7 linked regions of the Homo sapiens genome follow. The protein of the gene in region 7 interacts with the protein of the main gene of each other region in a pairwise test. Each region holds a gene or a part of one and is shown on either strand. Other genes may lie near its edges. The genes, in order: UBQLN1, GSN, BANP, NRF1, RHOXF2, SF1 and KHDC4.

The links.
Region 1: the proteins of KHDC4 (region 7) and UBQLN1 interact in binary tests that used the Homo sapiens proteins (3 or more experiments, as listed by UniProt).
Region 2: the proteins of KHDC4 (region 7) and GSN interact in binary tests that used the Homo sapiens proteins (3 or more experiments, as listed by UniProt).
Region 3: the proteins of KHDC4 (region 7) and BANP interact in binary tests that used the Homo sapiens proteins (3 or more experiments, as listed by UniProt).
Region 4: the proteins of KHDC4 (region 7) and NRF1 interact in binary tests that used the Homo sapiens proteins (3 or more experiments, as listed by UniProt).
Region 5: the proteins of KHDC4 (region 7) and RHOXF2 interact in binary tests that used the Homo sapiens proteins (3 or more experiments, as listed by UniProt).
Region 6: the proteins of KHDC4 (region 7) and SF1 interact in binary tests that used the Homo sapiens proteins (3 or more experiments, as listed by UniProt).

Annotation. Positions count from the first base shown.
Region 1 is NC_000009.12:83,700,714-83,705,399, reverse strand, and holds part of UBQLN1 (ubiquilin-1), read left to right. Parts: intron 1-4,686. UniProt on the Homo sapiens protein: Plays an important role in the regulation of different protein degradation mechanisms and pathways including ubiquitin-proteasome system (UPS), autophagy and endoplasmic reticulum-associated protein degradation (ERAD) pathway.
Region 2 is NC_000009.12:121,326,387-121,330,662, reverse strand, and holds part of GSN (gelsolin), read right to left. Parts: intron 4,152-4,276; coding exon 3,981-4,151; intron 3,356-3,980; coding exon 3,181-3,355; intron 1,773-3,180; coding exon 1,648-1,772; intron 1,426-1,647; coding exon 1,348-1,425; intron 1-1,347. UniProt on the Homo sapiens protein: Calcium-regulated, actin-modulating protein that binds to the plus (or barbed) ends of actin monomers or filaments, preventing monomer exchange (end-blocking or capping).
Region 3 is NC_000016.10:88,072,747-88,076,123, reverse strand, and holds part of BANP (protein BANP), read right to left. Parts: intron 1-3,377. UniProt on the Homo sapiens protein: Controls V(D)J recombination during T-cell development by repressing T-cell receptor (TCR) beta enhancer function. Binds to scaffold/matrix attachment region beta (S/MARbeta), an ATC-rich DNA sequence located upstream of the TCR beta enhancer.
Region 4 is NC_000007.14:129,708,674-129,713,359, reverse strand, and holds part of NRF1 (nuclear respiratory factor 1), read right to left. Parts: intron 4,286-4,686; coding exon 4,127-4,285; intron 2,987-4,126; coding exon 2,789-2,986; intron 1,886-2,788; coding exon 1,784-1,885; intron 1-1,783. UniProt on the Homo sapiens protein: Transcription factor that activates the expression of the EIF2S1 (EIF2-alpha) gene. Links the transcriptional modulation of key metabolic genes to cellular growth and development.
Region 5 is NC_000023.11:120,163,241-120,166,685, reverse strand, and holds the end of RHOXF2 (rhox homeobox family member 2), read right to left. Parts: intron 3,229-3,445; coding exon 2,899-3,228; 3' UTR 1,056-2,898; downstream 1-1,055. UniProt on the Homo sapiens protein: Transcription factor maybe involved in reproductive processes. Modulates expression of target genes encoding proteins involved in processes relevant to spermatogenesis.
Region 6 is NC_000011.10:64,768,102-64,772,787, reverse strand, and holds part of SF1 (splicing factor 1), read left to right. Parts: intron 1-2,379; coding exon 2,380-2,532; intron 2,533-2,734; coding exon 2,735-2,824; intron 2,825-3,178; coding exon 3,179-3,362; intron 3,363-3,449; coding exon 3,450-3,565; intron 3,566-3,658; coding exon 3,659-3,766; intron 3,767-4,501; coding exon 4,502-4,682; intron 4,683-4,686. UniProt on the Homo sapiens protein: Necessary for the ATP-dependent first step of spliceosome assembly. Binds to the intron branch point sequence (BPS) 5'-UACUAAC-3' of the pre-mRNA. May act as transcription repressor.
Region 7 is NC_000001.11:155,931,614-155,935,577, forward strand, and holds the start of KHDC4 (KH homology domain-containing protein 4), read right to left. Parts: upstream 2,801-3,964; 5' UTR 2,761-2,800; coding exon 2,723-2,760; intron 2,237-2,722; coding exon 2,020-2,236; intron 1-2,019.

The sequences.
Region 1 (4,686 bases), on a different chromosome or scaffold from region 7:
CAGGCACCTGTAATCCCAGCTACTGGGGAGGCTGAGGCTGAGGCAGGAGAATCATCGCTTGAACCTGGGAGAGGGAGGTTACAGTGAGCCGAGATTGCGACATTGCAGTCCAGCCTGGGCAACAAGAGTGAAACTCCGTTTCAAAAAAAAAAAGGAGTGCTGGCTTCAGCAGCACATATACTGAAAAATGCTTGTATCATTTTACCATCCCGCCAATGAAGATACATGGGAGTTCCTGTTGCTCCATATCCCTGCTAACATTTTGATATTGTCAGTCTCTGTAATTTTAGCTATTTTAGCGGGTGTGTAGCCATATTAAGTTTTAAAGCTCTCGGATCTCTTTTCTAGGATTCCTAATTCATGCCTCCACCATCCTGGGTGCTTTCAGCATTTTACTGCAAAAGATTAGAAATAATCAGTATTTTATAAATAGAAAAATTCCTTTCAGTCAATATATGATGTTATAGCTGTGAGGATGTTTTTGCTTTTTGTGATGTTAAAATTATAAATTCTGTGAACGCTTTTATTTTACTCTGCTGTAACCAAAGTGAGATTTTTTTTTTTTTTTTTTTTTTGAGATGGAGTCTCTGTCACCCCCCAGGCTGGAGTGCAATGGCATGGTGTCGGCTCACTGCAACCTCCCCTTCCCGGGTTCAAGGATTCTCCCACCCCAGCTTCCCTAGTAGCTGAGACTACAGGCGCATGCCACACCACACCCGGCTAATTTTCCTATTTGTAGTAGAGACAGGGTTTCACCATGTTGGCCAGGCTGGTCTCGAACTCCTGATCTTGTGATCCGCCTGCCTCGGCTTCCCAAAGTGCTAGGATTACAGGTGTGAACCACCGGGCACCCGGCCCAGTACGAATTGTTAATAGATAAAATTAAAGTCTTTCTGAAGTAGCCTTTTCTGATGGTAGTTTATTTTTAAATTCTTGATCATTGTTTTATGTTGAAGCAGAAAATGTGATAAAAATTGACGCTTATCACCACACCAGAGAACCTGTAGACAAGTTGGGCTTTGTATATGCAAGGGAAACAGATACAGGAAAATGTGGAAGAAAAAGAAAAGCAGTTTTCAAATGACCTATTTGTAAAATCTACTTGAAGCACAAAAGATATGCCATTTTATAATTTAAAAATTTTAAAGGGTTTGATTGAAACTGTTTGTTACAAATGAAAATTTGTCATTAAAAATACTTAATGACATTAAAATTCCACTGAAAGTGTCCAGTTAGAAATTGGGAAATATTTAGTCTTTAAAATTTGTACCTAATTTTGGAGGGTCAGAGGGTAAGCCGAAGACCTCCAGAGGATAATATTGAAGGCTTATGCTCTGTATCAGACAAATTCCGTTTTCTATAAGTTAAAATTTCTTTCAATAAGTATTTCTATGTAATGTAGATTCCTTAACACATTATACCAAAATTCTGTTTATATGAACATGCTGTAATAAGTGATTAGATGAAATTACGTTAAACTTCTTGGGTAAATTGTAAGGTGGTAATTTATTTTCCTATTTTTCCATTGGTTTCTGGTCGTGAGTACCAACAGGCAGAAACAGGTTGCCTTAATTTTTTACAGTGCTATATACATTTGGTATTTAATAATGTTACTTGTTCAAGGTTACTAATAAAGCTTAAGCTTTTTTCCAATTTAGAGTGAAATTTATTATTCACGGAGCACTCAGAATCAACTGAGTAACATAAATTTTTACTTACAGGTTGCTAGAATAGGTAGTGAGAATATAAACTGCACTGTGTACATTCCAAGGTGCTGTCATTAATAGAGATTTTTGTAATACAGGTTTTGAGTATCCCTTATGGGAAATGCTTGGGACCAGAAGTGTTTGGGACTTTGGATTTTCTTTTTTTTTGGATTTTGGAATATTTGTATATACATAATGAGATATCTTGGGGATGGCACCTAAATATAAACATGAAATTCAGTTATATTTCATGTACATTTTATGCACAGAGCCTAAAGGTAATTTTATACAATATTTTAAATAATTTTGCGAGTGAAACAAACTGTATACATTGAACCATCAGAAAGCAAAGGTGTTACATATGGGATTTTTCCACATGTGATGTCATGGTGTTAAAAAATTTCAGATTTTGGAGCATTTCAGATTTCATATTTTTGGATTGGGGATGCTCAACCTGTATGTAAGTAAATAGATACAAAAGCATAAATGTGTAGTGGCACAAAGTCCCTGTGTATGAGATTTTTTTTTTTTGGTTAATTGTTCATCATCAGCTATTGAAAAGAGCTTTGAGGATTTCCAAGTATCCACGAGCAAGATAACATCTAGAAGAATGGAGAGTTATATATGTGAGACATTAGTGCAGATAATGGAGGGGAGTTTCTGTGTAACTTCTAATTAGCTTATTCTGGGATTTCATAGACTGTTAGGTTATGTGTAAAATTTTGAAGTACATTTACTTGAAATGTTCAGGCAGTATATACTCTGGTTTTAGAAAGTGCCTTCTGTCAGTGCAAACTTCTGGGAAAATATTAATATACTTAGACATAATTTAAACGTATTGAGTCAAATTGAGCCTTTCTTTGATAAGGCAACTTGCCTTAGGGTCATCATCACACACATGATTTAACGTTATACTGTATAGTGTGGATCTAGAACTATACTGTCCACTTTGATACCATCACCCACATGTGGTTAAGTACTTAAAAAGTGAGATGTGTTAAGTGTAAAATTTATACCAGATTTTGAAAATTTGGTATGAACAAAATAAATATCTTAATACTTTTGATATATTATGTATTGAAATAGTATTTTGCAGATCGTGAGTTAAGTAAAATATCAAAATTAATTTGACCTTTTATTAAAAACTTTTTTTTCAGTATGGCTGCTTAAAATTTTTAAATTACTTGTGGCTTATATATATTTCTGCTGGACAACATCTTATCCAGAAGGTTGGATTGAATCAGTATAGCAAGATATCTGAGAAAAAAAATGTCTGTGAGATCATTGTTTTCTTATTTGCTTTGTTCTAATACTGGACAGCTGAAAAACTCGTTATTTAATGATTCTGATTAACAGAGATTGCTTAGCTTTTTTTAAGAAAGAGCGTAATTGAAGTGTAATTTGCCTACCATACAGTTCACCATTTTAAAGTCTGTAATTGATGTAATACATTCACAGGGTCGTGTAGTCAATTTTAGAACGTTTAGAACCCTCAAAAAGAAACGCTGTACCCTTTAGCAGTTGCCCTTCGTTTCTCCCTGGGCCCCCCAGCCTTAGGCAACTACTGATCTATTTTTTGTCTATAGATTTGCTTGTTCTGGGCGTTTGTTGTAAGTGGAATCATGTGGTCTTTTGTGATTGGCTTTCACTTAGCATAGTGTTTTCAAGGTTCATCCCTGTTGAAGCATGTGCCGGTACTTACTTCCTTTTTATTGCCGAATAACATTCCATTGTGTTGCCAACAGCATTCCACATTTTATTTTTCTATCACGTGGTGGACATTGGGTTGTTTCTACTTTCTGGCTATTGTGACTAATGCCTCTGAACACTCATGTATAAGTTTTTGTGGGGACATAACGTTTTCATTTTTCTTGGGTGTAGATCTTGGAGTGGAAATTGCTGGGTCAAAGCTCTATGTTGAGCTTTATGAGGAGCTGCCAAATTATTTTCTAAGGTGTCTGTACCATTTTACATTTCCACTAGCAATGCATGAGGATTCCGATAACCACATTCTCGGTAATACTTATTACTGTCTTTGTGATTATAGCCATCTTACTGGCTGTGAAATGGTATCTTACTGTGATTATTTTGCTTTTTATTTTCATTATTATTTTTGCTGGGGGCACTCTGAGGAAAACTGGACAGCCTGCTAGACAAATTTGCTTTTTGTTATCTGAGCAGTAGTTCTCACTGTGGTTTGGGGAGTCCCCATACCCTGTTAAGGGTACCATGAGATGAAACTATTTTCATAGTAATTCTGAGATGTTATTTTTATTTTTCAGTCTAATTTTCTCAAAACTGGGCAGTGCACTTGGCTAGAGTCTTTAAGGTGTGGGATATGACAACAGATGTGAAAATCCAGCTGTCTTCTATTACAAGACTAAAGTGATTTCCAAAAATTTAAAATAATGCCACTCTTATCACTGAGAAAATAGTTATTTTTCATAAGGATGTTATTTTTATTAATATATAATGTATTATTTTTAAATGAATTTATTTTTAAAGGTTATTCAGTTTTAATTTGTAATATTATAAATATCAACAGCTATAACCTAAACAAGCAAAACTCTTTGGAGTTCTGAAGTTGTAAAATGGTGTCCTGAGAGCAAAAATTTCTGTGGTGGCGTATTTTATAGATTACGTACTTAAAATATCGGGTAGTGGCTCCAATAAGTTGCCATTACCTCTTGCCTAGAAACTGCAGTAGCCTACTGGTCAGTTGCCTGACTTCTATAACTCTCCCACCAGCCATTCCAAGAGTGATCTCTGAAAAACGTTAATCAGAGCATGCCACCCTCTGTGTAAAGCTAATGGCTCCCTGTTGGTCTTAGAATATATAATGGAGTAGCGAGGCCCTGTGTAATACGGTTCCATGCCCTCTCCATTTTTTGCAGATGCCTTCTTTCTTTGCTTGCTTGGCTGACTACATTGACCTTCTAGTTCCCTGACCTGTTAATACTTTTTTTCCTGCCTGAGGACT
Region 2 (4,276 bases), on a different chromosome or scaffold from region 7:
TCTAAAATATTACTTCAAAGAGCACCTATCATTGATAAAATGGCATTAGACAATAAAATGTCAGACTTCATTTTTCTCACTTTTTTTTGAGACGGAGTCTCACTCTGTCACCCAGGCTGGAGTGCAGTGGCATGATCTCAGCTCACTGCAACCTCCGCCTCCTGGGTTCAAGTGATTCTTCTGCCTCGACCTCCCAAGTAGGTGGGATTATAAGCACCCACCACCAAGCCTGGCTAATTGTTTTGTATTTTTAGTAGAGATGGGGTTTCACCATGTTGGCCAGGCTGGTCTTGAACTCCTGACCTCAAGTGATCTGCCCACCTCAGCCTCTCAAAGTGCTGGGTTTACAAGTGTGAGCCAACATGTCTGGCCCTCTCTTACTTATTTATAAATGTGTTCCCAACTAAAGTGGAAGCCCCTCGAAGGCAGGCATTCTATTTTGCTCATCATAGGATTCTCAGCACTCAGCATTTTGCCTGCAAGACCATGGTGCTGAATAAATGTTGGCTGACTGAATCCCTAACAGATGAACAAACAGATTAAGTAGCCAATGGATCAATCAATGACAACTGCTGAATGGCTCAAGCTGCAATCATTTTTGGTCCCGATCTTCCAACTGGGGATTCCGAGCATCCCTGTGGGTAGTGTAGAGTCTTATGCCTTCGTGGCCAGCTGCTCCGTAACTCTGAGGACTCTGGGAGAAGCCACCTTGATAGGAAAGGTGACTGACCTGACACCCCTGTGAGAACGTAAGCCCTGGGAGAGCAGGAAAATGCCTACTTTATTCATTGCTCTATCCCAGCATCTCAAACATAAAGCACCTGGCACAAAGCAGTGCCCAATTAATATTGGTTGAGTAAGTGAATGGCATCTTCCCCTGCCAAGTCCTACATAATGGCCTTCTCTAGGAGATGAAGTGGAGACAGAGCCCAGAGCCCTCAAACCAGAAGCAGGAGCCCTCTAGAGCCTCTAGGTGACACTGGACAGTTTATGCCTGCAAACAAGATGCTGCTAAGTTCAACTTCCTCTGCCAACAGATTTAAAGGAAGAGTTCACGCTCCTGCAAGGTCTGGGAGAGAATGATGAAGGTCATGTGATTTGCCTTTATAGGGCGTTTTGCAGCTTTCAAGGTGAGTGTATCTGCAAGGGAGGTACCGCCACTCCCAGTTTACAGATGAGGAAATGGAAGCTCAGAAAGAAGAAGTGACTTCCAGTACCCTTAGAGACTTTTCTGGCAACACCTGGCACTGCCCCCTTTAGGTCCTTCTAGCAACTGATCATAGAACTGGAAGTCTAGTTTCTCCCACTCCCTCTGGCACAGAGAGCCTTCACCTGTCCTTCACCCACCTGGTCCCAGGTGTCCAGAAGCATGACGTCATCCGTTGCCAGGTCTTCCTGCATGAGCTCACCAGGAACCTCTTCGATCTGGGAAGGAACGAAAGAGCATCAGTGAGATGTCTTCCCTCCCCTGGGTGGCCTTCCTTTATCTGCCCCCTGAGGGAGTGGCACAGCTGGCTGCAGCTGGCAGGGGGCCCCTTCCTCTGTGCCACACCATCAGAACTGTTTCTCCTGCCCCTGCTGCCGGCCAGTCCTGTGGAACTCGCCTCCCGAGGGGAAAGCAGAGGTGTGACCTCCGCAGGGGCTCACCACAAAACGTCCAATCTTGTTGGAGCAGGCAAAGAGGCGAGGAGGATGGGCATCCATCTTCTTGTCCTTCAGCCGTGGGGATGTGCGGTAGGCAGCCTTCCCGCCCAGGGCCTCCCAGAAGCCATCTGTGAGGGGAGGCCACGCCAGTTGCCAAGGGACGCCATCACCCCTCTCTCCCATCTCATCGGACCCTGGGACCAGCCCTGCCCAAGCGCAACCAACTGCTCTCCCTCTCCTCCCTCCATCCTAAAAATCCCAGGAGATCCAGAGGGAAGAGGCCTGAGGGAATTGGAAGGTGACGAAATAGAGGCCCAGAGAGGGCAGACTTGGCAGTAGTCACACAGCCAGGACCACTATTGGCTTGAGGCTGACGACAGCATTGCGGGATGAGGACCATTAGCTCCACTCAGCTAATGAGGCAGTTGTGGCTCGGAGAGGTTAAGCAACTCACTCAAGGTCACACAGATGGTAAGTGTTAAGACCAGGATACAAATCTTGTCTGATTCTAACACCTATACTCTTTCCACTATACCTGCTCTGTCCATGTGCAGCCATTTAAATTTAAATTCATTAAAATTAAATTCGACTAAAAGTTCAGTTCTTCATTCCCACTAATTCCCACTGGTCGCATTTCAAGTGCTCAACAGCCACATGTGACTAATGGCTGTCAAATTGGACTCGGCAGATACAGAACATGTCCATCTGCATAGAAGGTTCTGCTGGACAGAGCTGCTTTAGACCAAGTCACTCTTCACCATTTCTGTTAAGCATCAAGCAGGTGGGAATGAACTCAAAGTAACAGTATAAAGACTGCAGGCTGGCAGAAGGAAGAGCTGCCCGGCCCACATTCTGGAAACAGAGCAGGCTGGTGGCATTTCTGTCCATGGAGAGTCTAGAGATGCAAGGAGACCACTGCTCCTCTGACGCTATCAGCCCTGCCTACCACCTTTCAAGGCTTCCTAGCGAGGGACCGCCTCCTTCCACAGACCAACTGCTCCTTCCCACACTGGGCTCTCCTTTCTTTCTTTCTTTCTTCTTTTTGAGACAGAGTTTTACTCCTGTTGCCCAGGCTGGAGTGCAATAGCGTGATCTCAGCTCACCGCAACCTCCAACTCTCGGGTTGAAGTGATTCTCCTGCCTCAGCCTCCCGAGTAGCTGGGATTATACAGGCATGTGCCACCATGCCCGGCTAATTTTGTATTTTAGTAGAGATGGGGTTTCTCCATGTTGGTCAGGCTAGTCTTGAACTCCCGACCTCAGGTGATCCGCCCGCCTTAGCCTCCCAAAGTGCTGGGATTACAGGCATGAACCACCACGCCCAGGCTAGGCTCTCCTTTCTTTAGCTCCTGGAGACCTCCCTCTCTCTGGCCACAGCCCTCATTTTAATGCAACTGCTTTTATTTAACATACATTAGGGGACAGGCCCTCAGGTGGGATGGAGGGGAGGATTTAGAGCCCCCAAGCTGAAGGAAAGAAGGGGGAAACTTAATAGCTGCATCCGGACAGCAGCAGGCCCCCCACCCCGGCTCCTACCTGGCTCGCTGCCTTCTGCCACCTGCACAGGTTGGGCCCGCAGCACCCTGAGCAGCTCCTGGGCCCCCGTCTTCTCTGCCTCGCTGGCTCCTGTACCCACCCACAGGTAGGCGGCTGAGGGGGTTTTCAGAACAAAGGCATCGTTGGAGTTCAGTGCACCAGCCTTAGGCAATACCTGGGAGGGTACAGCTTGGTTAATCAGGAACCAGACAAAAAGCCCTCAGCCCCCTCCTCACAGCCCAGGAGACCCCGCAGCAGGACTAGCTCTCAGGTGGGGACTTGGAGGAACACAGCCCATCAGAGCTGAGGGCACAGACTTTGGACCCTGATGGCCTTGGTTGACTCCCATGAGTCACTAATGCACTGTGACTAGCCAACATGATTCTAAAAATCAGGGCTGCATTAACAGAAGTTGAATGCCCAGAACAAAGGAGGTGAGAGTCCCATTCCCCTCTAGGCTGCTCAGACCATCCTGGGAATCAAGTCCAGATCTGTGCCTTCCTCCGTGAAAGGGATAGTAGGCAACTGGAACGTAATCAGGAATGGCATGCTGATTGTACAGAATGGTAGGTAGTGAGCTGTCCACTGTGCAAAGTGTGCAAGGGACACTGGGTATCCTTGAAACAGGGGGGAGTCTAAGACAGACAACCCTGTGGCCACGGCAGGAAAATACAAAAAGCTGCTTCTTACCCCGTCATTCACCATCCCCTGCCCCCGTTCCTGTGCCTGGAGATCTGGTCATTGAGCTGGGAGGTTTCAGGGAGGCCAATCCCTTCTGTGTTCCAGGACCTGGAAATTACCTCAACAGCCCGGGTGGCTCCAGCGCTGTTGGCGCGGACCTGGAAGAGGCGGGTGCTGGCAGGGGCTGTCTGCCCGCCCTCGCGGGAGGTGCCGCCCTTGTAGATGATCATGGGCTTCCCACCAAACAGGCTCATGAGGTGGGCGGGCTCCTTGCCTTGGACCACACGGCTCTGGCAGGGAGACAGGAGAGCAAGTCAGGGACCTTGGGGGCAGGCTTCAGTCCTTCTATGTCGCACTGGGCCCATCCCTCCAGACGAAGCCATCATGCTTGTGTCTGTGTGTGGCATGGAATGTG
Region 3 (3,377 bases), on a different chromosome or scaffold from region 7:
GTTCTGGTCAACGAGTTACAGATATTAAAAGGACTTCAAGTACGAAATCACAGCTTTATCTTAAAATGAGTTAAAGGAGGTCGGGCGCAGTGGCTCATGCCTATAATCCCAGGGCTTTGGGAGGCTGAGGCAGGTGAATCACTTGAGGTCAGGAGTTCAAGCCTAGGCTGGCCAAAATGGTGAAACCTCGTCTCTACAATAAATACAAAAATTAGCCGGTGTGGCGGTGCACACCTGTAGTCCCAGCTGCTAGGGAAGCTGAGGTAGGAGAATCACTTGAACCCAAGAGGCAGAGGTTGCAGTGAGTCGAGATTGCACCAATGCACTCCAGCCTGGGCAACAGAGCCAGACTCCATCTCAAAAAAAAAAAAAAAAAAGTAAAGGAAAAACATACAGTCTTGGAATAAGTCACTCATCCTCCAGCTCAGCCACACGGAACACGCCCCAGGTGGAGGAGCCCACTCTAGGGCTGCCGTGCACACTCCCAGAAGCTTCAGCTGGAAGGCACAGGAACCACAAAGGAAGAGCCAGGAGAAGCCACGAGCCCACGGCCGAGCCCACGGGAGGAAGAGGCCTGGCAACTTCTACTCTAGTTAAGGTCCTGCTTCATTTTATTTTTTAGAGATAGGGTCTTGCTCTGTTGCCCAGGTTGGAGTGCAGTAGTGCAAGCACACCTCACGGCCGCCTCGACCTCATGGGCCCAAGTGATCCTCCCACCTCAGCCTCCCAAGTAGCTGGGACCACCAGTGCACACCACCACGCCCGGCTAAATTTTTTTGAGACGGAGTCTCACTCTGTCACCTAGGCTGGAGCACAGTGGCGCAATCTCGACTCATTGCAACCTCCGCCTCCCGGGTTCAAGCAGTTCTCCTGCCTCAGCCTCCCGAGCAGCTGGGATTACAGGCACCTGCCACCATGCCTGGCTAATTTTTGTATTTTTAGTAGAGATGGGGTTTCACCAGGTTGAGCAGGCTGGTCTCGAACTCCTGACCTCAGGTGATTGGCCTGCCTCAGCCTCCCAAAATGCTGGGATTACAGGCGTGAGCTACCGTGCCCGGCCCCAGCTAATTTTTTTACGTTTTGTAGAGATGGGGGTCTCGCTACGTTGCCCAGGCTGGTCTTGAAGTCCTGGGCTCAAGCAACGCCCCTGCCTCGGCCTCACAAAGCACTGGGATTACAGGCATGAAACACTGCACCTGGTCCAGGTTGTGCTTTTTCAAGACAAATGTCAAATGACACTCGATATACTGTTCCCTGGATGGAGGAGGGGCCTTCCAGGGTAGGATGAGGGGTCAGTATGAGGACTGTCTCCTGCGAGCCCGGCCACAGCTGGGAAGGCCTAACGGGAAGGGGTGAACCTCAGCTGGAATGGAGGAGCCACACCAGGGCCCTGGGGTGGGTGGCTGAAGGCCATGGGAGGTTGGGGTAGGGGGGCCACCGCCTGGGATGCAAAGCCCCTTCCCCCAGACAGCTGGAAAGGCAGCTGGGGACTTGGGTGGGTGGGGACAGTGGGGCACAGGTCTGGGCTGGCTGGGACTCACTTGCCCTCCAAGGACAGTGGCCAGACCTGTGTTCTGGGCAGAGGCTGGTGGAGGTGCTGCCTCTGCTACAGATGGTTCAGGGAGCCTGTGACACCCACAGGCCACCGCGCATTAAGACAAGTGTCTTCCCCTGCAAATGGCACCCCCCTACCCTCCCAACCCACTGCTCCAGGGAACAGGCCCCACTCTCCACTTTGAGGATTGGCCACCCCCACAGGCCAGCTACCTGCCTTCCCTCCTAAGGGAACCCATCTTCTCAGAGCCAGGCCCTCACAGCTGAGCCACAGGTTTTCCTAGAACGAGCTCAAGCGCGTGACCCTGCTCTGACCCATGCAAGATGCAAGACCATTCCCAAGCATGACTGGGGTGGGGGCTTCATGTGGATAAGGAGGCTCAACCAGAAACCTGTCTCTGTTGGGTGCAGTCACGCCTGCAGAGTCACCATGAAGGCCTTCGGTCACTTCCCAGTGGGGCAGAGCTAGCCTGAGGACAAGCTGAGATGGTAAGGCAGAGAGCTGGGCCCTTGGTGACAAGCTAACGCACCCTGCAGTTGTCTGGCCTCAGATGGGCAAACCCGCTCACCACCAAGTCCAACCACGCTGGGGTTTTCTGCAGGGAAAGCGGCCCCTTAAGCACGCCGTCTTCCTTGGCTGTTACGATGGATCCTAATTAAATCATTCACCTGGGGCCTGCCAGGAGGGCATGGTAACAGAGAGAGCTTACAGGAAGCTAGGGGTGTAAACACCAACCATGGGACACAGGTTTGTTCAATTCTGAAATCGGAAAATGACCAGAAACTTATAATGCAGCAGGACGCCCTCAGGCATGGCCCCCACATCTAGTTTCCTGGGCGCGGACCTCACTGCCCTCCTGCAGCGCTCCTATCTGGAACGGCACGGGGGGCTGCCACGCGTCCTCGGCAGGGGCTGAGGCAGCCACGCCTGACTGTTCTTCACGGACAGGCCAAGGTTCACACCACATAAAATAAGCGCTGCCGAACGAGTTTGCCTTCACCATCCCACCCACCCGCTCCTCACTGCCTGTGCGTTCTGCGCCCATGGCCCTCACCGTGCTTCCAGCGCATCTCCAGTGAGGTCGGCGACAATGTGGAACCAAACACCACGCAGAGTACAGGGCGCGCCTCTGCGGGGGCCACCGCGCCCATGGGCAGAGTACAGGGCGTGCCTCTGCAGGGGCCACCGTGCCCATGGGCACAGCAGGAATGCTCAGGCCAGAGGAGGGGCCAGACCTTCTACAGGACACGGGTCCTTAAACTCTGGGCCCGCAGCTGCCCCGCTGTGAAGACGTGAGCGTCAGGTGAGCACTGACATCATCACACGGCTGTCGCGGCTGAGGGACTGCAGAACCGCCCAGCCTGGCGACCTGCGCACCCTGGTGAGCGTGAGCTCTACCGAGCCCACTTCTTCAGCAAGCGCCTCCTGAGGAGGACCCCTCTCTTCCCGAGGGCTGAGGGGCACACCTGCCCTCAGCAGTGCCCGGGGAGCAGGGAAAGGCTGCTCAGACATCTAGGATTTTAATTCTAAGCACTGAAGGTGGATGGCATCAAGACACAGGTGGATCACCAGCGCTGGGTCCACAGAAAGGAGCGGAACAGACCCAAAGACAGCGGCCAGAATGTTCCAGAAGGGCTGGGCAGCAGCCAACCACCAGGCTGGAGGTAGAACAAGGACAACGTCCCCGCTGGGCACGTTCCCAAAGCAGGTGGCACGGAGGCTGCGGGGCCAAGACTGCTCCCGGATGCAGGGCCACCTTCTGCCTCCAGTGTTCAGAGCAAACAGCCCACGGCATCACGGGGCTCTTGTCTGGGCCTCGGCC
Region 4 (4,686 bases), on a different chromosome or scaffold from region 7:
CCTAGCACTTTGGGAGGCCAAGGCAGGCGGATCATGAGGTCAAGAGATCGAGACCATCCTGGCCAACATGGTAAAACCCCGTTTCTACTGAAAATACAAAAATTAGCTGGGCATGGTGGTGCGTGCCTGGTGCTACTCGGGAGGCTGAGGCAGAAGAATCGCTTGAACCTGGGAGGCGGAGGTTGCAGTGAGCTGAGATCGTGCCACTACACTCCAGCCTGGGCCACAGAGTGAGATTCCGTCTCAGGAAAAAAAAAAAAAAAAAAGGAAACGCAACTCCATTAATGTTATAAATATTATGTGTCAAAAACAAATTATTTTATACAGAAGGAAACGAAGTTACTTTCTTTAAATAGTACCAAGAAACATTCAGTAGAGACATATGGTTGATAACTTTGTCTAAGCCAAAAACTAACACATCTCCTAACTGTACCCCTCGTTGTCTTTTCCACCTCTTTCAGACTTTAAGGAGTGTCATCTTGTTCTAGTGTTCTGGGACTGACAAATTCTTTGCTTTGCTAATCCATATCCTTTAATGATGTTTATATACTTAGAAAGTAAGTGTCCTGTCAACCTTCACCTTTCCTCACCCAATAACCAAGTTTTTCAGTGTCCCAAACTTTCCCAGGCTCCTTAGGTGGAAAGGAGGCACATACGCTTTGCAGCATCCCTTACAGGAAGGCTAGAGTTCATTCACGTAGACATCTCTCTTCCCCACTAGACTGGAGTCCCATGACAGCAAGGATCCTGTGCGAATCAACTCCACACAGCTGCAGCTACACAGGGGTTTGGCACATGCAGGGTGGCCAAGGAGCCTGTGGTGCACTCTCCCTCCATCTCCCAGCCATGTGGCCTTTGCCAGCTCTCCCCCTCTCCTGAGGGGCACAAATGAAAGTGACTTTGTGGTGTTCTAAGGGGAAATGCTCCATGGCTCTCAACAAGGGTGAGATAATACTCTTAGCTTTATTTCTGATACTGCTCTTTGACATCTGTTGGCTATTTTTCAAACTTCAGCACACCACATCAGTATCTTCAAGGGAAACACTCATGGTGACGTAACAAACCCCTTCCTTCACTGTTGCATCTTCACCAATGGCTCAGAGCCTAGGTAATGTTTTTCTCAATGCATTATCCAGCTTCAACACTGCTATGGGACTTTGGGCAAATCATCTAAGCTCTGTTATGTCTCGGTTTTCTCATCTCTAAAGTGAAGATAACAGAACTTTATACTTCATAGGGTTGAGTGTTTAGCCCACCAAGTGATCAATAAAGGTTGGCTGTCTTTAGGTTAATGTCCCATAATTATCCCAATTTTGGTAAGGAAGAATTCTCCTAAGAAATCTTTTCAAAGGCATATTTAAGATGTAATAAATCATGTTACTGACTTGCAAACATATTTATCCTTTCAAAGAAGGCTTCCCTTAGTCAGTTCCAGTTTTAATGTGACATTTTTTTTTCATAAAGACCAAAGATGAAATTCTTTGGGATTCACAGCATAAAAATGGTAAAGGGATAATCCCTTTGTATTGTGTATAATACCAAATGCTATACATTCAAATGTAAAATTCTAAGTTCCTGACATACTAATCCATGAATCTTAATTGTTACAATTAATACACATAGCATAAGACACTTTCTAAAACTTTCATGGTCTCATGCTCTTTAAAAGGTTTAAATGAAAGAGTGCCGCAGACATGCAGGCTACTCCATCTTCTGGACCCTTGCTTTTCCCTCATTATACATTCAAGTATTTAAGAAGATGCAGATGGAATCTCTTTCTTACCTCTCCATCAGCCACGGCAGAATAATTCACTTGGGCAACGGTGACCGTGGTTGGCAATTCTGAAGCATCAGCCAATGTGGCTACTGTTGCCCCCGTACCAACCTAAAGAAAAATATGGAAAGTGGTTAAGTGTCAGTGGATGGATCCTTCCACCTCTTTACTCAGAAGCTGAGACTCATTTAATCCCAAATTCAGCACAGATAACAAAGAATATGCCTTATGATGTGAAATCTAAAATCATAGCTCACTAAAATCATAGTTCAGAGACTATCACGAGTTTCAGAATTTTACTTCAACCAAATAAGTCCATATGAGAAAAGCTATCACATCGCCACATCCATGCCCAGTGTTGGTCAACCAACTTTCTATTCTCACCTCAATCTGAACTTTAGAGGTTCCCAATCAACAAATTGTGTTTTACCTCAGAAGAGGTCATTCAGAAGGAATATTCCCTGATCACTGAGAGTGAAACTGTAAAACAGAAGTCATTTTAAGGCCAGACATGGTGGCCCACATCTGTAATCCCAGCATTTTAGGAGGCCGAGGCAGGAGGATCACTTGAGCTCAGGAGTTTGAGACCAGCCTGGGCAACATAGCAAGACCTCATCTCTACTTAAAAAAAAAAAAAAAATTCAGCCAGGCCTGGTGGCATACACCTGTAGTCCCAGCTACTCGGGAGGCTGAGGAGGGAGAATCACTTGAGCCCGGGAGGTTGAGGCTGCAGTGAGCTGTGATGACAGAGAGAGATCTTGTCTCAAAAAAAAAAAGAGCCCTTTAAAAGTGCTTTGTTTTGGAAATGTCCAGGAAGCTACTCATAGCTCTGTATTTAGCAAATGCAAAGAATTTAAACTATTCTTCAGAAATCAATTTCAGGTAGGAAGATCTTGGGGAGCTATATAAAGTTCATACAAGAGTTCGCACAAAGGAAACTTTCCCTAGTCTGAGGTGAGGTGCCCACTGATCCATCTCAGAAGCCACAGTCTGGTAGCCCTCAGGTTTACTCACCTGGATAAGTGAGACAGTGCCATCAGGGTTACTAAAAGTCTGGACTACAGTCTGTGATGGTACAAGATGAGCTATACTATGTGTGGCTGTGGCCTGTGTTTGCGTTTGCTGATCTTCAAAGGCATACAAAAGGTCTTCCCGCCCATGCTGTTTATAACAGTTTTTAACTATGGTCCGTAGTGCCTGGGTCCATGAAACCTGTCACCAAATGACCGGAAAAGCACATTAAGCCACAAAGAACTTTGGTTATTTAGTCCCAATATGCAATAAGCAGCTACTTCTTTATCAAATCAAACCAAACCAAACCTCTTATTAGACTCTCCTAGGATTACCTCCCACAGACTGGTTCTGGTAGAAAGAAGCTGTGTACGAAGTATCAAAGAGGGCTTCTCATTGGTTTCTTCTTGATCAAAGTCTAGTTTACACCCTATTCCAACCTGAGGCCAAACTCTTAAACTTCTTGCAAAGAAAGATTATTCTGATCAAGAATGGCATATTAAGATTCTCAGTAAACTTCCAAGCTAAATGAAAAATAAATACGTGGCCAGGCATGGTGGCTCACGCCTGTAATCCCAGCACTTTGGGAGGCTGAGGAGGGCGGATGGCCTGAGGTCGGGAGTTCGAGACCAGCCTGACCAGCATGGAGAAACCCCATCTCTACTGAAAATACAAAATTAGCTGGGCATGGTGGTGCATGCCTGTAATCCCAACTACTCGGGAGGCTGAGACAGAAGAATTGCTTGAACCCGGGAGGCAGAGGTTGCGGCGAGCCGAGGTCACGTCATTGCACTCCAGCCTGGGCAACAAGAGTGAGACTCTGTCTCAAAAAAAAAAAAAAAAAAGAAAGAAAAGAAAGAAAAAGAAAAATAAATACGCAAAAAAAGTAAGGAATGGTAGGTAGTTTAGTCTTTCTTGTAAAAGTTTTGTTATTAGCAGACTCAGCTGGCAGACTTCATATCCCTCTAATTCCATATTTACATTTTCAACAATGATTTTTAGTAACCAGAAATAAAAGCATTTCTAAGTGTTCAAAGTGATTAATACTTTTACTTCAAGTTTCTTTGACTTTCCCAAGCACTTCATAAAATTAAAACTGCTCCAAAAGGCAACCCCGAAGACACATTTTAAATTCATCAACTCAACCCAGTCTTCTCTTTATAGTATAGTGATGGAGCGACAAATGGAAAAGGCTATAAATCAAAGAATATCAGTCTTTGGAGGGACAGGCTTAACTATTACACAAAGACTTTCTAGCACAAGATGTAGAAATGACAAAAATTGAGGTGGTTAATTTAGGATGGAAAAGCAACCAGGCAACTCAGTCAGAGGAACTCTCACCCTCTGCTTTTGCTCTTCTGTGCGGACATCACTCCGGACATTTGCCCAGGGGATATCTTCAGGCCACCAGATGGGCTTGCAGCTTTCTTTCCCCCAGCCTGGTTTTCCCCGACCTGTAGAGTACTTGAGCATCTCTGGGATAAATGCCCGAAGCTGGGCCTGGAAGAGAACAGTGTGGTCATCAATACTCATGAAAGACATCTGGGGTGTGTTTATGACTCCTTAAATTCTAACCTTATAAAACAGAGAGGTTTCCAGGAAGGTCCCAGAGAATTCTAAGATGTGACTGATGAAAACCCACTGTTTTCCATAGGTTCCTATATCTCCATGGGTGGTTGAGAATTATAAATATGTTGATAAAGTGCACCTTAGGCTGCATTTTGTAGACTTGTTCCTCTAAGAGTAAGAATATCTACCCCTAAGTTTAATTTCTGCTTCCCAAGATATTACTGGTACTATAGCTTATTTCCCTTCTACAGTTTTCATGCATGTAAGGTGCCAAACTCGGGGTGTTTTCAACACTGTTCTGGAAGTAGGAATCCATGCAATTAGATAAGAGA
Region 5 (3,445 bases), on a different chromosome or scaffold from region 7:
CTGATAAACTTTTACCACTAAACCTACTCCAAATACATGAGTCATGCTATTACTGTCATGATTCCATAGGTGAGATGATATGGTTGGGATATTTGTCTCTGCCCAAATCTCATGTTGAAATGTAATCCTTATTTTCCCCAATGTTGGAGGTGAGGCCTGTTGGGACGTGTTTGGGTCATGGGGGTGGAAACCTCATGGCTTGATGCTGTCCTTGCAATAGTGAGCGAGTTATCACAAGATCTGGTTGTTTAAAAGTGTGTGGCACCTCCCACACCCACTCTCTCGCTCCTGCTCTCACCATGTGAGATGCCTGCTCCCAGTCTGTCTTCCACCATGACTGTAAGCTTCCTGAGGTCCTCACCAGAAGCAGATGCCAGCATCACACTTCCTGTTAAGCCTGCAGAACTGTGAGCCAACTAAACCTCTTTTCTTTATAAATTACTCAGCCTCAGGCATTTCCTTATAGCAAAACAAGAATGGCCTAACACATGAGACAGCAGAGATATAGTAGGTTAAGCGACTCATTCAAGGTAACAAAGACAGCGTAGAGCTGCAGCAAGAACCCAGACCACCTTATTTTTAATCAGATCTCTTTCTGTTATACCACATAGGAAAGGTGGAACAACAGGTTATAATAATATGATGATAGGAGATAATATAGAATAATAGTAGAAAACATTTCTGTGTGCTTACTCTGGCTGGGCATTGTGGAAGGCCACTTACATATGTTATTTATCCCTCTCATCAATTCTGTGATATAATATTATCATCTTATAGAGAATAATAATGATACTACAGAGCTTAAGTAAAATGCCCAGGGGGAAACAGCTGGGAAGTGGTGCATCTGGGATTGGAAGCCAGATTGCCCTAACTGTGGCATCCCAGTGCACCACCGCTGAATTAAACTTGACAAAGCATGGGCTCTGGAGGCAGACAAATTTGGCTTCAGATCCTGTTCCTCTGATTAGCTTTGCACCATGGATAAGTTTCCTCTTCTTTCAATGAAGATGCTAGAACCTCACTATTAGGATTCATTTGAGCATCAAACAAAATCATCCAAGGACATTATTTTATTGCTTGTCACATAGTAAAGGCATACAAGACGTTAGCTGCTAATAAAAAGGGAATGAAAGTTTTAAAGGGTACTGTCTCCAGTAATGTTCTCCATCAGAAAAAATTGTAACTTGTTCTCCACCCAGCCCCTTGAACTAGTCCCATTGTATGCTACCTAAACAATGTGTTGTTCAAGGTCAGTAAATGACATCCTAACTATAATTCTACGAATTTGAATTTCTTAAGGTCCAAGAACTCTGCTTTGAAGTTCAGGATCTAGGTTACCAGAGCTAGACAACATCTTGACCTATAATTCTAACAGGTACTTATCAGATACATGAAAACAAATGCCAACTGAGTATAGGAGATCTCATTTTCTACATAAAGGAAACATATATGGCTAAAAATGTCTTTTGATGGTGTAAAAATTTTATGAATCTGATAACCACGGGGAGGGATAATGGAAGTATGATTTCAATCTCCCCTCCTCCCCTTTTACCTTTCTTTGCCTATTTCTGAGTATCTCTAGGCTACCAAATGTTTCAGTCTGAATGTAGAAAAAACAAAATAATGAGCAGGAATAGACCGACTGGCACAAAATGTACCAAATGGAAACAATTTCCAGACGGAATGTACACTGACATGCGCGACTTACTGTAAATAATTATACAAAGCACAATACAATGAGAACAAGAGCAAAAAAAAAAAAAAAAAAAAAAAAGGAAAATCTCAATCGGAGAAGAAAAAAGAATCCACTTGGCCAAGAGGCATGCATTAATGCATAGTGAATTCATGGACTTTCCTTATTCCCACCAAGGCTTGTGGCTTCAGGGGTATGAATAAACCTCCTTCTCCTTGCAAAACCCTCACACCAAATGCAATTGCGTGGCTGAAGCTTGACACCCACAATTGTGAAGAGAGAAGTGGGGAATGAAAAGCAGCAGACAGCCTGACAGAAAGTTCATGCTCACCCAAGAAAATGGAATTTTCCTTCAGGCTGAAAACATAATCATTATGAAACTGGCCATCAAATAATTTTCAGAGAAAATACTGTTGTAACCATCACTCCTTATCTGCAGGCATTGCAATCACTTCACAGGATGACCACAATGTTCATGATCACTTTTTAAAAACTTTTTGGTATATTTTTTCTTTTCTTTTGTTGTGGTAAACCATATAAAAATTTGCCATTTTAGCCATTAAATAAGTGTATAATTTCATGGCATTATTTACACTTACACTTTTACAAGAAAATTACTTTAAAGAAGTCTTCCATAGCAAGAAAAAACTTAATGAATTTTTAAGAGTGGGCATGGCTTCCTTCCCGATACCATTTTGGTTTTGCTGTTTTCCACCCTGGCAGTAACTTGAAACACACTATTCTCTCATTAGGGACTCACACCACCCCATCCTGCACATGTACCTGGTATCAATGGGGGCAGAGAGGAGATGAGTATGGGGTGTTGGGGGTGGGGGTGGAAGAGAATGTCTGGGTCGGTGTAAGCCTGCCATGGGCACATGGGAAAATTCTGTGACATGCACAGCCCCCAGATGGTGACTCAAGATTACTGCATGAGACGAGAGTCCGTGACATTCGGTTTGAATGGCATTTCTTAACAATTTTTATTGAGAACTTACTGACCCCATGTGACACACAAAACAAATGTACATACCCTTCACATATTTATAGAAACATTTTTACAAGTGCCCTAAAAATGGGTCAATGATGTACTTTTCTTTAAAACGTTTAATAGACATTTGATGAACTACTTTTGATGGGGTGCTATGCAAAATATGAATCTGGCTCAAAGACACTCTGGCAAAAAGTGGCACAGAGGCTATCCCTTAGACATTGGGGAATGTGAAAGAAGGCACGATAACAAAAGGGAATGGGCCAAATTCAGCCTGGCCAGCGGGTGGCATAGGTGGAAGAAGCATGAGTGGAAGGGGCAAGGACGGAGGAGGAAAGGGTGGCATGGGGAAACACAGGCTGCTGGAATGGCTGTGGTCCCAGAAGTAATCATCTCTCATCCCGCTGATGAACAAGGGTGCCGTTATGGCCTCAGCTGCGGTTACCATGACAGGCTGGCCCACTGCCATGAAGGGCAGCATGTTTCTTGCCATTAATGCCCTCTGATGTCTCCTCCATTTGGCTCTTCTATTCTCAAACCAAATCTTCAATCAGAGGAAAAAAGAAACAGGTTTAGTATACTGAGCATTTAATTTCATCATGGAAAAAAACACAACAAGCAACTCTCTATGTCCTTAACCTTTTCGGGTGTATCAAGACAAGCTACTTCCTTACTACTAAAATATCTTAGAAAGGTGACCACCACACCTTTCCCCTAGTGAGCTCCAAGTATGTGCTACGTACGCTCTGGCTTGGCTTATT
Region 6 (4,686 bases), on a different chromosome or scaffold from region 7:
GGCCTCAAACAGCTGTGGTCATGTCATTTCAGTTTGCAGTTTCTCTCACCTCAGAAAAATAAATTGTGTGGGGGAGATGAACTTTTTTAAACTGGAATTTTATTAGCTGATTGAACAGCTAAAATTGGTCATTTAATTAGAAGGGCAGTAAGTCTCTCCCTCTCACTGAATTTTCTCTTAGTACATACAGAATAGTTGAAAAGACTTTGCTTTAAAAAGTAGTGTTTTTGGTTTTTGTTACCCAGTTAATAGCTTATTAAATCAGGAAGATGATGTAATGGCTTTAGAAGTCACTCACTCATGCATCTTTCTTCCGCCCTTTGCCAGGAAACATTAACTTCCTTGTTTCTCCATATTGACTCTTTAATTTGACTTACTACATTTGCTATATTTTACCTATAGATAGATTTTGGTTGTAGGGTTGTGTTGTGTTTCGTTTCTTTTTGAAGATTTTTTTTTTTTTTAAATTTACATTGTAGGTCATAGACCACAACTGTTTAGTGCCTTTTTGGCCTTTTTCCCTTTAATAATATGTCTACAGGTCACCAGTCAATTCCTCCAAAGGTTGAATTTTTAACAAACCTTCTTTGCTTCCTGGATAACTGGGATTAGAATTTAGTTGATCTAGCCGATGCCTGTTGGAGGTGAAGAAGTCGGGCCAGTCTAACCTCTAGAATACTAGCTTTTGCCTTTCACTTCTGCAATTTGGGAGGAGGTTAAACTGTTGTGAGGCCTTCACATGGCCAATTGGGTGCTGGTAAGACTTGTTTTTGTAACTAGCTAAGAATGCTTAATTCTAGACAGCTGTGGGGTGGGAATTAGAAATGTCAAGCATGTTAGAAATAAAACCAGAGCAGGGTTTTTCCTCCCTTCTATTCAGTTTTGAAAGAGGCCCTAATGCCTGATTGGTTTTGCTTTTGAGCCCAGGTTGGAGGGAAATGCATGGGTTTTCTTAATTAAGATAATTTCTTAAAAAGGTGTTATATCACTTAAGCCACTTTATTGTTATTTTGATGCTGCTTAACTTGCACAGTAAAAACATGTTTAAAACTTTTCTTGTAGACTTAAATGTATAAGATGGTAGTCTAATGAGCTGGGGTATGTTTGCTTTTGTTCACTCTTAATGGATTGTGCTAACAGTTTATACAAATGCTAGAAACGGAGGTGTCATTTAGCCGTCATTAGCCATGAACAAACCTGACCTTTTATTCCATCGTGTGTGTAACGTGGTGTGACATGGTTCCCTTTAGGCTGAAGACAGTGGGAGCAGCCGAGTTCAGTCCTTGCTCTCCAACTAGGCAAGGTTCTCTCAACTAAACCAAGGGTATAGGAGTCTTGATTACTTTCAGTATGTTTTTTTAATAACCTGATCCACATGGTCTCTTCCCTTCTTGCAGCTGCTACTAAATTTTCATTCAGAATATCAAGCTATGGTCCTTTTTGTAATCTTAACTCAAAATTCTAGGAGTGTAACCTCTCTTTTTTATTACCGCAAAATCCAGCTGTGGTAAACTGACCATTTTATCATTACATTTTTTTACTTGTAGCAACAGCATTTTACTCCTTAAAAAAATGAGAGAGAGAAAATCTGCTTTCTGGACTTGTAAACTCTGGTGGAGAATCATAGGTTTTCCCCTTGCTGTTTGCAGGTTCAGACCCTAGACAAGTATGACCAAATCTGCATTTGCAGCCTCTCGCAGAAGCTGCTTTAGCACTTTAACGTTTTTCTCTACCCAGACTCCCCAACCTCGAACAGCCAGAAAACAGGTTGTCTCCTGGGCCTTGGACACAGCCAGCCAGGCCATTGAAGGAAAAGCAAAGACGAAGCGAACCATCTCTCTCCATTGTGGGGGCCAAGTAGCTGCAGTAGCCTTCAGTCCCAGTTGCATTGGGTTAAAGAGCTCATACATACTATGTGTTAGGGGTACAGAAGCTTTTCCTCATAGGGCATGAGCTCTCCAAGAGTTAACCTTTTGCCTAAACTTGGGGTTTCTGTGGTTCATAAAGTTGGGATATGTATTTTTTTTCAAATGGAAGAAAATCCGTATTTGGCAAGAAGACTCCAGGGGATGATACTGTCCTTGCCACTTACAGTCCAAAGATTTTCCCCAAAGAATAGACATTTTTTCCTCTCATCACTTCTAGATGCAAAATCTTTTATTTTTTTCCTTTCTCACACACACCCCAGACCCCTAACGTTAAGCCAGCTTCCATCTCCCCATTCCACACGATCTTGAGTAGCACACGTTATGGTCGGTTCCTCCGAAGAGTGTTGTATTAGGGTCTGAGAGGCAGAGGGGCTGGGAAAGACTTGTTATAGTCCGTGTGGGAATGAGAGAAGTCGGTGCAGAATAGTAAACGGGAGTCTGTTTCCCACAGGTCCCCTTCCCCTGAGCCCATCTACAATAGCGAGGGGAAGCGGCTTAACACCCGAGAGTTCCGCACCCGCAAAAAGCTGGAAGAGGAGCGGCACAACCTCATCACAGAGATGGTTGCACTCAATCCGGATTTCAAGCCACCTGCAGATTACAAGTAAGCGGAGGGGCTCGGTCATCTGGGATGAAGACACATGCAGATCATGGGTGACCTGCTGGGATGGGACAGTATTGGTACTACTCACCTCTTGCCTCAAGTCACCCATAATTAGCACTTGGTACCAATATTTGGTTTTAGAAAAGCCGCTGGCTGTGTCATTCTCCAGAAATGTGCGGTGACACAGGCTTTTCTTTCTTAGACCTCCAGCAACACGTGTGAGTGATAAAGTCATGATTCCACAAGATGAGTACCCAGAAATCAACTTTGTGGGGCTGCTCATCGGGCCCAGGTGAGTAACTGCTGGTCTATAGGATATAGAATTCCTTTAGAGCCTGTGAGATGTGTCCGTTTTGTGCCTAATTGGGGACTGTTGGCTTACTTTTCCCCTTTTTGGTAGGACATTTCATTTTGGCTGAATTAATGCCTTTCTGTGAGAAGGTGTCTTAACTTCCCCACTAGTGCGGAGAAGTCAAATCCTCAGGTTTACTGTGGCTGACCATAATATAGAGTTCATGGAGCTCTTGGTGGGAAAATCCAATTCTCTGCGCTTGTGGTTTCCCACCAATGCCAAATTGGTCCAGCCTCTCTTCCCTCTTGAGTGTGAATTTGTCAGGTATAAACTTAGTCATTTCTGCCTCTCTAGAGGGAACACCCTGAAGAACATAGAGAAGGAGTGCAATGCCAAGATTATGATCCGGGGGAAAGGGTCTGTGAAAGAAGGGAAGGTTGGGCGCAAAGATGGCCAGATGTTGCCAGGAGAAGATGAGCCACTTCATGCCCTGGTTACTGCCAATACAATGGAGAACGTCAAAAAGGCAGTGGAACAGGTGAGCGGTGAGCCCAGAAAGGAAGCCTCCTAGCAGAAACCTAGGTGGAGGCCCTAAGCACTTAACTGTCCATTGCATTTTCACTAGATAAGAAACATCCTGAAGCAGGGTATCGAGACTCCAGAGGACCAGAATGATCTACGGAAGATGCAGCTTCGGGAGTTGGCTCGCTTAAATGGGACCCTTCGGGAAGACGATAACAGGTATGTGATCAGTTTAAAGGAGAGTGTAGAGACCTGAAGAACCTATGGAAGTAGAGATTGTTCCCTTGCATTGACCTCTTTTTCCTTTAATAGGATCTTAAGACCCTGGCAGAGCTCAGAGACCCGCAGCATTACCAACACCACAGTGTGTACCAAGTGTGGAGGGGCTGGCCACATTGCTTCAGACTGTAAATTCCAAAGGTGAGGGGCTGGCTCTTGCGGTTTCCTGGTAGCCTGCGATGTGCAGGACAACTTTTCTGGCACATTCATTGGTTGCTGTTAATCTTACCAAGAGAAACATCCTTTCTGTTAGTGTGGTCTGTAATGGTGTGATTTAAAGCCCAGGATGATTAGAAATAGGCTGTACAGATACCCCTGTTTGTTTGTCTTGAGCCCAAGAAAACTGGAAGTTTCCATTTTGGGTATGTTTTTACTGGGGCTCAATAGGAAATTCACTGCTTTTGCTGTTCAGAATTGGTTCAAGAAGACTAAGCAATCTCTACAGATTTCTGACCAGTTGCAAGTCAGCACTCGATATCAACACTTTCTGACTGGCTGGCGAATATGTAAGGTTTTGTTTAGGAAGTTCGTTCTGGCAGTTGTGCCAGTCTTGCATAGATTTTCCTTTCCTCAAACTGGGAATGAAGTTTGATGAAATTGACTTGAGAGAACCTGTGCTTCATCGGTGCTCAGGGTCTCCTGTGCTCTTCGCCCAGGGGCCCCTCTACTCTGGTGATCCCAGATGCAGAACTGGGCACGAAACTGAAGATCTGATGAGACTGTTGAGAGCCATGCCCAGTAAGGGGTTAGAAAGATGTGTGATGATCTGGTGATTGAATTCTTCAGAACTTTCCATATGTTGGTTCCTCAGGATAAAAGCTTCCTTCTTAACAAGTTTTTCCCCTTTCTCTGTTTGTGTCCCCCACCCCACTTCAGGCCTGGTGATCCTCAGTCAGCTCAGGATAAAGCACGGATGGATAAAGAATATTTGTCCCTCATGGCTGAACTGGGTGAAGCACCTGTCCCAGCATCTGTGGGCTCCACCTCTGGGCCTGCCACCACACCCCTGGCCAGCGCACCTCGTCCTGCTGCTCCCGCCAACAACCCACCTCCACCGGTGA
Region 7 (3,964 bases):
AGGGTTTCACCATGTTGCCCAGGCTGTTCTTGAACTCCTGGCCTCAAGTGATCCACCCACCCGCTTTAACCTCCTGAGTAGCTGGGACTACAGGGGCCTATCTCCCCAACCTATGTCTAGAAAATCTGCTCAAGAAGGTAACATACTGTTGTTTACTTTGTGCATTAAATACATTTTTTAAATGTGGAGGCAAAACTAAATACAAACTCAGCAATATCACCTTACCTTTATTTAACCCCTTATAGTATTCATTTACATTATCATCTCAATGAATCCTTATGGCCGCCTTTAATAGTACTTATCAATGTTGTCCAAGAGAACTTTTGGTGACAAGGGTTCTAGTCTATCAGTCGAATATGGTAGCCATTAGCCACATGTGTCTCTTGAGCACTTGGCAGGTGGCTAATGTGACTAAAGGTCTAAATTTTAAATTGTATTTTGGTTTTGCTTTGCTTTTTGCTTAAACAACAGGAATTTATTTCTCACAGATATGGAGCCTGAGAGTATTTAATTATTTGTATTATTTAGACAAGGTGTCACTCTGCTGCTCAGGCTGGAGTGCAATGGCAAAATGACAGCTCAATGCAACCTCAAGCTCCTAGGCTCAGGTGATCTTTCCACCTCAGCCTTCCAAGAATCCAAGAAGAATTACAGAGGAGCTGGGACTACAGGTGTGAGTCACCACACCCAGCCCCTTAATTTTAATTTAAATTGCCACATGAAGCTAGTGACTACTGCACTACACAATGCAGGTATATATTACCAACGAGAAAGCTGAGTTTCATTATGCCAAAGCCATGTAACCAGTAACTGTGGATTCTGGGTTTCAAACTGTGGATTCTGGGTTTTTAGGTTTTATGATTCTAAATCCAGTGTTTATGTATCCTGCTGAGGTCAACTACCTAAAGATTATTATTTTAAGAAAAAAAAAGAGCTTAAACGATTAACATCAGTATTAAAAATCTTAATATACAAGGAGCACTACATCTTTGTCAAGATGCTTTTAATTTTTCCTCATAAACCTTATAAATGGATGACTGACTCACACAATCTTTGCAAACAATAGGCTGCGCCTGGTGGCTCATACTTGTAATCCCAGCACTTTGGGAGGCAGAGATGAGCTTGGTCAACATGGTGAAACCCTGTCTACTAAAAACACAAAAAAAAATTAGCCGGGCATGGTGGCATGCACCTGTAATCCCAGCTACTCGGGAGGCTGAGGCAGCAGAATCAGAATCACTTGAACCCAGGAGACAGAGGTTGTAGTGAGCCGAGATCACCCCACTACTGCACTTCAGGCTGGTGACAGAGTGAGACTCTATCAAAATAAATAAATAAATAAATAAAACCCTACAGGTTCTAATTAGAGATGACACTATGGGGCTCACTTGATTTACCTGAACTCCTCTGACTTCAGGGAAAAAGCACATATATTAAAAACATGTTATGTTGCTTTAAATGACTATGGAAATACAGCTTAAGCTGAACTAAGTGAACAAGGACAAGACAAGGTATTTGGTCCATAAATGTAATCAGCCCAATCAAAAACGCCTCGTAAATATGTATTTGTAACAAAATGTGTTCTGGAACATTCCAAAACTAAATGATCTCTCAACTACTATATCCATTTATCCTTTACTAACACAAATTATTATGCGATTACAGGATTACAAACAACTTTTTTTTTTTTTTTTTGAGACGGAGTCTCATTGGGTCGCCCAGGCTAGAGTGCACTGGCACAATCTCGGCTCACTGCAACCTCCGCCTCCCGGGTTCAAGCAGTTCTGCCTCAGCCTCCTGAGTAGCTGATTACAGGCGCGTGCCACCATGCCCGACTAATTTTTGTATTTTCAGTAGAGACGGGGTTTCACCATGTTGGTCAGGCTGGTCTCAAACTCCTGACCTTGTGATCCACCCGCCTCGGCCTCCCAAAGTGCTGGGATTACAGGCGTAAGCCACCGCGCCCGGCAAAACAACTATTAAATTCGCAATTAGTGGAGACCCTTCAACTTCAAATACCTTCTCAGAAGCATTCTGAGTTGGTTTCAGCTTCCCTTTTGCCATGAGCATGGCATTAATCTTGGCAGCCACAGCAGCAGCAGCATCCAAGGCTCCTGAAGGAGCAGCTGTGGTGCCCCCAGGACTTCCCCCACTGCTGGTGACCTCCCCACCTGGGGCCGCTGGCGGGAGGAAGAGAAGTGGGGCTGGAGCTGGTTGGTCCCATTTGCTGCGGCGCCTACATGGAGAAAAAGGAAAACATTAGGCCCCAAAGCTTTCGTGTATGTTATTCTTTCCTTACTACGCCTTAGCACCCCATTTTCCCTCTATTATATTCCATTTACACCTCCGAATCACCTTCCAAATCTAAAACTCCCCTCTCCTTAAACAATTATTGCTTATTTAACAAACCCCCACTTTCAACCCTTCCCCAAAATCTTTCGTTTCTACTGTCACCTATATCGAAAGACTCCACTCTATCCTACACGCTCTAGTTTACGCCTTCCCCTTGGCTCGCCCTTCCAAAAGTCCCCGTTTGCCTCCTCCCTCGGATCCCCGCCGGCCCTTTAAGGGCCCCAGGCCTGCTCAAGATCCTTCTCCCCAAACGTCCAGCCCTTTACTTCCCACTTAAGGACCCTTCCACCCTATACGCAGCTTCTCAGGGTCCCTCCGCCTCTCCTGCGCCCCAGTGCTCGCTCCGATGCCCTCGCCCCTGAAGCCGTACCCGCCAGCTCCAGGATGTGTCGCGCTCCCCGCGGACATGGCGACCGCTTCTACTCAACCACCCGCCAACTATCCGACTACCACCTCTCGTCACTTCCGCCCCCAACGTTCTTACGCACAGCCTCTTCCGGTCGTGGGGCCGAGCGGTTCCGGTGAAAATGTCGATTCCGATTGGACTCTCGATGATTTAAAGGCATCTGGCGTTTCTGAGGCAGGTAGGGTGTGATCTTCCGGGTTGCGCCTTAACCTTAAGAAAGATGGCTGCTGTGCCTACTATAAATGCGGAATCGGGGCTAGCTGAATCCATCTTTATCGTGGGCATGTTGTTAGACTAGAAGACAATATGCATGAGTCAGGAGATTAAACAGGTTTCTCCTCAAATTCCGCTACGTTTGTGTTGAGTCCTAGTTTCTGTCTGGGGAGACAGCCTTCCCGCGGCTTTTGCCCGTTTCACGTTTCTGTTACTTAGGAAAAGGAAAAGGATTCGTTGCAAAGATCATTTGGAGAATTTCTCTGTTTGTTTGCTTCATTTCTGTGCACCAAGCAGGGAATATAAAAATAAAAAGATGAATAAGCCGCAGGCCCTGCCATTCTGGTACTCTCAATGTGGCAAGGCAGGTACGCAGGCAAATATGTATGATAGAGTTGTATATTAAGCAAAGGTCGAAGAAGATAAGCTGCTCATCTTGCTGGAGCGTTTAAGAATGGGACGCTAAAAAGCCGGTTGAGTACTGGAGAGGCGATCAAGCATAGGTTATGGAGCACCCTGTTCTGGCATCTGTGTACTTAACGGTTGAGCTGGCTGGAGTGGGAGGCCAGAAGATGAAAGGCCTTGAATGCTATGCTGAGGAGTTTGAGTTGATTCTGTAGGCTAAAGGTTTCTTTTTTTTTTTTTTTTTTTTTTTTGAGACAGTTTCGCTCCGTCACCCAGGCTGAAGTGCAATGACGCGATCTCGGCTAACCACTCTCCGCCTCCCGGGTTCAAACGATTCTCCTGCCTTAGCCTCCCAAGTAGCTGGGATCACAGGTGCCCGCCACCACGCCCAGCTAATTTTTTGTTGTTGTTGTTTTGTATTTTTAGTAGAGACACAGTTTAGCCATGTTGGCCAGCCTGGTCTCAAACTCCTGACCTCAGGTGATCCACCCGCCTCGGCCTCCCGAAGTGGTAGGATTACAGGCGTGAGCCACCGCGCCCTGCCGAGGCTAAAGGTTTCTAACCTTTAGGATGTCTTGGAGCTTCAAT